Regions from separate parts of the Homo sapiens genome. Here all the other regions are linked to region 1. Evidence: fine-mapped expression QTL. A gene starts in region 1. Each other region holds a variant in brackets. All regions are shown on one strand. Distances are between the middles of the regions.

The links. PIP is the estimated chance that this variant, and not a neighbour inherited with it, causes the effect. A credible set is the group of variants that fine-mapping cannot tell apart.
Region 2: its variant is the best candidate, but not a certain one, in a credible set for the expression of UTP3 in iPS cells (HipSci, PIP 0.71).
Region 3: its variant is the best candidate, but not a certain one, in a credible set for the expression of UTP3 in whole blood (INTERVAL, PIP 0.65).

What each region holds. Positions count from the first base shown.
Region 1 is chr4:70,686,919-70,689,770 of GRCh38, forward strand. UTP3 (UTP3 small subunit processome component) reads left to right here and starts at 1,614. Exons shown (of 1, transcript NM_020368.3): 1 at 1,614-2,852. The coding sequence starts at 1,760. RefSeq lists enhancers at 539-1,509, 890-979, 1,510-2,478, 1,680-1,739.
Region 2 is chr4:71,269,783-71,272,282 of GRCh38, forward strand. The region is part of intron 3 of SLC4A4 (solute carrier family 4 member 4); the gene reads left to right. Among named protein-coding and RNA genes, the nearest start is that of SLC4A4, 84 kb to the left of the region's middle. The variant A/G (reference allele first, on the strand shown) is at 1,076.
Region 3 is chr4:70,730,215-70,733,066 of GRCh38, forward strand. All of the region lies in intron 1 of RUFY3 (RUN and FYVE domain containing 3), which reads left to right. Among named protein-coding and RNA genes, the nearest start is that of RUFY3, 9.7 kb to the left of the region's middle. RefSeq lists an enhancer at 1,204-1,453. The variant G/A (reference allele first, on the strand shown) is at 1,637.

The sequences.
Region 1 (2,852 bases):
AGTATCACTTTTCTAACATTTTGCATTATTTTTATTAACCTAATGACACTATACTTTCTGAAAAGAAATTGTCACCATTGGCTGGGCGCGGTGACTCACGCCTGTAATCAATCCCAGCACTTTGGGAGGCCGAGGCGGGCGTATCACGAGGTCAGGAGATGGAGACCATCCTGGCCAACATGATGAAACCCCGTCTCTACTAAAAATACAAAAATTAGCTGGGAGTGGTGGCGCGTGCCTGTAATGCCAGCTACTCGGGAGGCTGAGGGAGGAGAATCACTTGAACCAGGGGGTCGGAGGTTGCAGTGGGCCGAGATTGCCACTGCACTCCAGCCTGGCAACAGAGCGAGCCTCCGTCTCAAAAAAAAAAAAAGAAAAAAAGAAAAAGAAAAAAGAAACAAAAAACAAAAGAAAAAGAAATTGTCACCATTAATTTTATTTTATTTATTTATTTATTTATTTTGAGACAGAGTCTCTGTCTGTCGCCCAGGCTAGAGTGCAGTGGTGCGATATCGGCTTACTGCCACCTCCGCCTCCCGGGTTCAAGTGATTCTCCTGCCTCAACCTCCCGAGTAGCTGGGATTACAGGTACCCGCCACCACGCCCCGCTAATTTTTTGTATTTGTAGTAGAGACTGGGTTTCCCCATGTTGGCCAGGCTGGTTTTGCACTCCTGACCTCAAGTGATCCACCCACTTCGGCCTCCCAAAGTGCTTAGGATTATGGGCATGAGCCACCGCGCCCAGCCATGTCACCATTAATTTTAGCAACGTATCAAAAGTTCAGCTTCCAACTACCTACATTAAAAGGTATAATAATACTAACCCTGAACCTTACATATGTAATGCCTAAAAACTTACACCCTGAATTACTCTAACATTACAGGGCAGACTTCCTTGAGAAGAGTCAGACCCTGCAGCGGGGCTCTGCCTTCCCACTGTCAGCCTCGGGGTCATCTAGCTTTATCGATCCCCATGGAGCGGGTCACCGAGCCCTGTGAGCAGGGAGAGGGCGATGGGGATGAGTAAACCCGAGCCGGAGGCCCGGCCTGCGCTCTCGCCCGGAAACCTCCCGTGGGATTCTGGAGTCCAGCGGCGCTGCCTGAGGCTGTGGTACCCAGAAATATGGTATTGGGGGTGGGGGTGAAATGAGAGGAAAGCAATCTGATTAACTTCCAGCCTGATAAGCAGAAAAGAGAAAACAAGGGAGCAGGAAAACTACGCTAGCACTAGACTGCCGGTCGCAAGCGCCGGGTACACACGCAGTTAAACCTCAATGGAACGCCCCCGGGACTTCTCCGGGGCGTAAAGCGCAGCGCCCTCTATTGGCCATCGGGACCTCGCCTGGAGGTGCCGTCAGGATTCCGTCCCCCAGCCACTCCCAGGCACTCGAGAGTAAGCGCATTAGCCCGAGAAAGCGTTCTGTGGAACGGAACTTCCTTATCCTATCGTTTCCACACGGAAAGATTTTAATTCACCGGAATCGACTGGCGTTAAAGGGCACAGTGAAAAGGAAGTTGGTATCAACGTGATCTCGACTAAGGGACCGAGCGGAAGTCCTCAATCGTACGCCACGCGGAGAGCATGCTGGGGGCCGGAAGGAAGAGGAAATTCCAGTAGCCGATCAGGAGTCTGCAAACTCCGGTGGTAGGGGAGCGCGCTGCTGTTTAGAGCCACGAGTTACCGGAGCGCCTGATTCCTGCGCCGAAGTCAGTGGTGGCCGAAAGTCCGGAGTCGCTGTAAAACCTGAGATTGTGAGCCATGGTGGGGAGATCCCGGCGGCGCGGAGCAGCTAAGTGGGCAGCTGTGCGAGCCAAGGCAGGTCCCACGCTCACCGACGAAAATGGAGATGATTTAGGATTGCCACCCTCACCAGGGGACACCAGCTACTACCAAGATCAGGTAGATGACTTTCATGAGGCACGATCCCGGGCCGCCTTAGCTAAGGGCTGGAATGAAGTACAGAGTGGAGACGAGGAGGATGGCGAGGAGGAGGAGGAGGAGGTGCTAGCCCTAGATATGGACGATGAGGACGACGAAGATGGAGGGAATGCGGGGGAGGAGGAGGAGGAGGAGAATGCCGATGATGATGGTGGGAGCTCCGTGCAAAGTGAAGCTGAGGCCTCTGTGGATCCCAGTTTGTCGTGGGGTCAGAGGAAAAAACTTTACTATGACACGGACTATGGTTCCAAGTCCCGAGGCCGGCAGAGTCAACAGGAGGCAGAGGAGGAGGAAAGAGAGGAGGAGGAGGAGGCACAGATCATTCAGCGGCGCCTAGCCCAAGCGCTGCAAGAGGATGATTTTGGTGTCGCCTGGGTTGAGGCCTTTGCAAAACCAGTGCCTCAGGTAGATGAGGCTGAGACACGGGTCGTGAAGGATTTGGCTAAAGTTTCAGTGAAAGAGAAGCTGAAAATGTTGCGAAAGGAATCACCAGAACTCTTGGAGCTGATAGAAGACCTGAAAGTCAAGTTGACAGAGGTTAAGGATGAGCTGGAGCCATTGTTAGAGTTGGTGGAACAAGGGATCATTCCACCCGGAAAAGGAAGCCAATACTTGAGGACCAAGTACAACCTCTACTTGAATTATTGCTCGAACATCAGTTTTTATTTGATCCTGAAAGCTAGGAGAGTCCCAGCACATGGACATCCTGTCATAGAAAGGCTTGTTACCTACCGAAATTTGATCAACAAGCTGTCCGTTGTGGATCAGAAGCTGTCCTCAGAAATTCGTCATCTGTTGACACTTAAGGATGATGCTGTAAAGAAAGAACTGATTCCAAAAGCAAAATCCACCAAGCCCAAACCAAAGTCTGTTTCAAAGACTTCTGCTGCTGCCTGTGCTGTTACAGATCTTT
Region 2 (2,500 bases), 580 kb after region 1:
TATTATACAGTGGTTAAGACCATAGGTTTGGAATCGTAGTTTGTGTTTAGATCCCAGTATACTTTACTTACGAGCTTTTTGATGGTGGGCAAGTAATTTGACTGCTCTAAGTCTCCATTCTCGTGATCTGTGAGGTAAGATGATAAAGAAATATACCTCACCAGGTGGCTGTGAAGGTTACCTGAGTATAAAGCTTTCAAAGGGCACTGGCAAATAATACAGCTTAGTGTATATTAGTTATTATCATTAAGTAACTTAATCACATTCACACATTAGCAAGGAGAAGAGCTGGGACTTGAACCTATGACCTTTGGTTGTTTTTGAGATGAAGTCTCGCTCTTGTCCCCCAGGCAAGAGTGCAATGGCGCAATCTCGGCTCACTGCAACCTCTGCCTCCTGGGTTCAAGCGATTCTCTTGCCTCAGCCTCCCGAGTAACTGGGATTACAGGCACCTGCCACCATGCCTGGCTAATTTTTTTGTATTTTTAGTAGGGGCGGGGTTTCACCATGTTGGCCAGGCTGGTCTCGAACTCCTGACCTCAGGTGATCCGCCCGCCTCGGCCTCCCAAAGTGCTGGGATTACAGGCATGAGCCACCGTGCCCGGCAGAACCTGTGACTTTTAACTCCAGCTTCTACCTTGTTATTTTTCCAAAATACTAGGAATTTCCTTCTTTCTCTTCTCTATGGCAAGTGGCTGCTACATTAAGTTGTTAGTGAAGGGGATGGGTTTTGGAATAAAAGACTTGGGGATTCTGTGAGAACATTTGACCTCCTGGAATAAATCAGCAAATTACTTAAAAATGTAGAAACACACTCCTTATTATTAAGAGCTACTTGGTTCTAACCCAAACTGAACTTAAAAACATCCCCTACTCTGACTCACATTATTAGTATATGAATACTTTTGGATGTACCAGTTATGTGATGTATCCACTGTCCTTAGTAGGGGATTAAGGATAGATGTTGGGTTCCCACATTATAAGCCCCCTTGCTCCCCTCAACCTTTCCTTGCATGGACCTGGTGAGAGTGAGGGGTGGAGCTCATAGGCTCATTGGGGAACAAACCATGGTCTC[A/G]TCTGCACTGTCTTCTAAGCAAATCAGTTAGATTAAAAGCAAAAGAACAAATTAGCTTGAGATACTTACTGAATTTGGATTGCCCCTTGAAGTGTTTACATTTATTTCCATCCTGCCTCTTCTCTTCCAGGGATCCCTGCTATAGCTTTTTGGACAGCCTAGGTAAGCATGGTGGCTGCTGTGGGTGCCCACCACTACACATCTTTCACGTTTGCCTGCAGGGGTCCTCAGTGCTGCACCATAGATTATGTCTATGTGGACACCTTCACTTGTTTAAATGTTCACTTCTCTGATTATAAAAATAATAATACCTGACCTTTACATAGTGCTTGACAGGTTACAAAGCATACTTGTATACATAAATGATTCTGAGGGATATTTAGAGGTTATTATTTCTGCTTTACATGAGAAAATATAGATCTGAAAGGTGAAATGAATTACCTCCAGAGAGGGGACAAGTATGAGAAGTAGTTAGGACTTGAACATTCCAAATCTGGTGCTCTTTTTACAGTACCTACAGTGATATCTTCTCCCAGAAATGAATTAATGTGTTGGCTAGTTAATAGCTTCTCACATTCTACAAAAGATTTGAGGGGTCTTGAAATAATAAAATATGGGTGGAAATAGAAACCAAACCAGGGAGAACACACAATATCCAGAACCACTAGGATTAATATTGTTCCTACAGTTGAATTTAATTTGTCTTTGAGCTTCCTGGCAGCCAAGATAAAAAGAGGCACAATCAGTTACATATTTCTTATTAGAAAAGGAAAAACATGCTACAGAGAAGTGGAGATTTTACTAGGATTGTATTCAAAATAATTGTTTTGCTTGAGGCCATAGATAAGGAGCAATAAGAATAAATGAAGATAATGCTCTCAACAAAAATTTGTAGCTACTCAATAACATAAAAATGCATTGCAAGGGGGCTAACATTTGCTGGGTGCCTATTATGTGTCTGGCACTCTACTAGTGCATATTTTATTTTATTCTGCATATTTTATTTTATTTAACCCTCATGAACATTTAATGATCACAACTATCTTTTAAAGGTATCATTGTGACCATTTAATGATAAGGAAACTCATCCTCAAATAATTTAAACTATTTCTTCAAGGTCACGTAGCTAGTAAGGAGTAAGCCAGCAATTGAGATCCAGACCTTGTCTGATTCTACAGCCTGTGTCCTCACCATTCTATTCATGCTGCCTATAATGTGTTAGAGACATAAATTAACTAAATGCAAGTATATATAATCTTCTAGTGTTTCTACTTTATCCAAGGATATGTTTTACAGGACCCAGATTATAGGTTGGTCTTCTGTAAACATCATTTCTCTCATCTAGGCTTCAGTAGGAGGTGAGTTGTAGAAAAGCTCATGTAGTGGTGCTGCTTGAGAGTGTTTCCCCAGAGTGTTAACTGTGGC
Region 3 (2,852 bases), 43 kb after region 1:
ACCCAGCCAAAATATGTGCTTTTCTATTAACCTTCTTTTAGGGATAAGGAGTCTGACATTGAGAGGTGATGCACAGATGATCAGTTGAATGCAATAAAATATACATCTGGCCTGATTAGTTACTTTCCGCTAGGAATTATTTACTCCAAGTGTTAAAAATGTATTCTCTCATTTAATTTTTACAACAACCTTTTGAGCCTAGGTACAACTATTACCCCCAATTTACAAATAAACTGACATTTGGCCAGGCGCGGTGGCTCACACTTGTAATCCCAGCACTTTGGGAGGCTGAGGCGGGTGGATCACCTGAGGTCAGGAGTTCAAGACTAGCCTGGCCAACATGGTGTACTAAAAATACAAAAAAAAAAAAAAAGATTAGCTGGGCGTGGTGGCAGGTGCCTGTAATCCCAACTACTTGGGAGACTGAGGCAGGAGAATCACTTGAACCTGGGAGACAGAGGTTGCAGTGAGCCGAGATTGCACCACCGCACTCACTCCAGCCTGGGCGACAAGAGTGAAACTCCATCTCAAAAATTAAAAAAAGTAAAATAAGCTGACATTCAAGGGTGTAATAACCGGTAGAGGCAGGATTCAAACTCAGACTACCAATGGTTCAACCCATACACAACACTCCTGTCCCAGAATTCTAGAGTGTAAGTCCAACAATAGGCCTGCGTGTAATAAGAGGAGTCTTCTTCCCAGTCTCTGATGACATATTTGCAGAAGTTTTATACACAATTGAACACAGCATTGGCAGCTTAAGTACAGTCAGCATGCAGATAAGGCCAAAAGCATCCCAGCTGGGACATGCTTGGTGATTGCCATCTTTTTTTTTTTTTTTTTGAGACGGAGTCTCGCTCTTGTCCAGGCTGGAGTGCAGCTGCGCGATTTCGGCTCACTGCAACCTCCGCCTCCTGGGTTCAAACAATTCTCCTGCCTTAGGCTCCTGAGTAGCTGGGATTACAGGTGCCCGCCACCATGCCCGGCTAATTTTTGTACTTTAGTAAAGAAGGGGTTTCATCATGTTGGCCTAGGCTTGTCTTGAACTCTTGACCTCAGGTGATCTGTCCACCTTGGCCTCCCAAAGTGCTGGGATTACAGGCGTGAGCCACCAAGCCTGGCCAGTGATTGCCATCTTTTAAAGTGGAGACTGAGTTTTTTGTCCACATGTTTTCTTTTTCCTCTTTTCACTCACTTTTATAAAGTAAATGAAAATATTTACATAATCGTGCATATACTACCAAACAGCAAAAATAGTACACTGCTGAAACTGACCTGGCTGGCAAGTGACACCTCTATATGCTAAATTTAGCTTTCTGAAGCAGATGTACAAAAGCAATAAGAAAAGCAGTTTTGTTTTGTTTTTGTTTTGAGACAGAGTTTCGTTCTGTTGCCCAGTCTGGAGTGCAGTGGCGCAGTCTCGGCTCACTGCAACCTCTGCCTCCCAGGTTCAAGTGATTCTCCTGCCTCAGCCTCCTGAGTAGCTGGGACTATAAATGTGCACCACCATGCCCGGCTAATTTTTGTATTTTTAGTGCAGACAGGGTTTTGCCATGTTGGCCAGGCTGGTCTTGAACTCTTGGGCTCAAGCGATCACCCGCCTCAGCCTCTGAAAGTACTGGGATTACAGGCATGA[G/A]CCACCGCACTTAGCCTGAAAAGCAGTTTGTGATAGCAGTAATGTTCACGATTATGGATTGTTTGAAATAGTAGCTACAGGTAATCATTATTCTTTTAGCCAAGCATTCTCATGCCCTTCTTTGGATGATTTTTTCAATGTTTTTTCAAACTCCTTTTCAACATACTTACCTGTTCCAGTCAGACTGTGCTTCAGTAAAATCCTGATTATTCTTTTTGTTTTACTATTCTGACTTGTGATTCTTCATGCCCGTGTTATATCAGGAAGGGTAATGGACCCCTGACTCCCTTCATCTACAAGTCCTTCTCTAACAGATCTCACACCTTTCATGTCCTGAATCACTGGTTAGCATCTGGGACATTTGTTTGAATATGCTAGAAATCATTCCCCAGTTATTTAATTCATGGGATTCCTTATTTCTGAAATTATATAGAAAGTTCTTCAGGGCAAACCTTTTCTTTGGCGTTCTTCAGAAGGCCCCATGGTACTGTGTACTATTTATCGTAGATATCCAACAAACTTCTGGTGAACTCAGTGATTCCCTATTACTCCATAAAATCATTTTAAAAGAAAGGATTTGCATGTTACTGTAAAGACACATGCACACGTATGTTTATTGCGGCACTATTCATAGTAGCAAAGACTTGGAACCAACCCAGATATCCATCAATAATACACTGGATAAAGAAAATGTGGCACATATACACCATGGAATACTATGCAGCCATAAAACAGGATGTGTTCATGTCCTTTGCAAGGACATGGATGAAGCTGGAAACCATCATTCTGAGCAAGCTATCACAAGGACAAAAAACCAAACACCGCATGTTCTCACTCATAAGTGGGAGTCAAACAATGAGAACACATGGATACAGGGAAGGGAACATCACACACTGGGGACCTGTCGGTGGGTAGGGGGCTGGGGGGAGGGATAGCATTAGGAGAAATACCTAATATAAATGACGAGTTGATGGGTGCAGCAAACCAACATGGCACATGTATACCTATGTAACAAACCTGCACGTTTTGCACATGTACTCCGGAACTTAAAGTATTAAAAAAAATAAAAAGCCAGGTGCAGTGGCGGGCGCCTGTAATCCCAGCTATGTGGGAGGCCGAGGCAGGAGAATCACTTGAACTCGGGAGGCGGAGGTTGCAGTGAGCCAAGATCGCGCCACTGCACTCTAACCTGGGCAACAGAGTGAGACTCCATTTC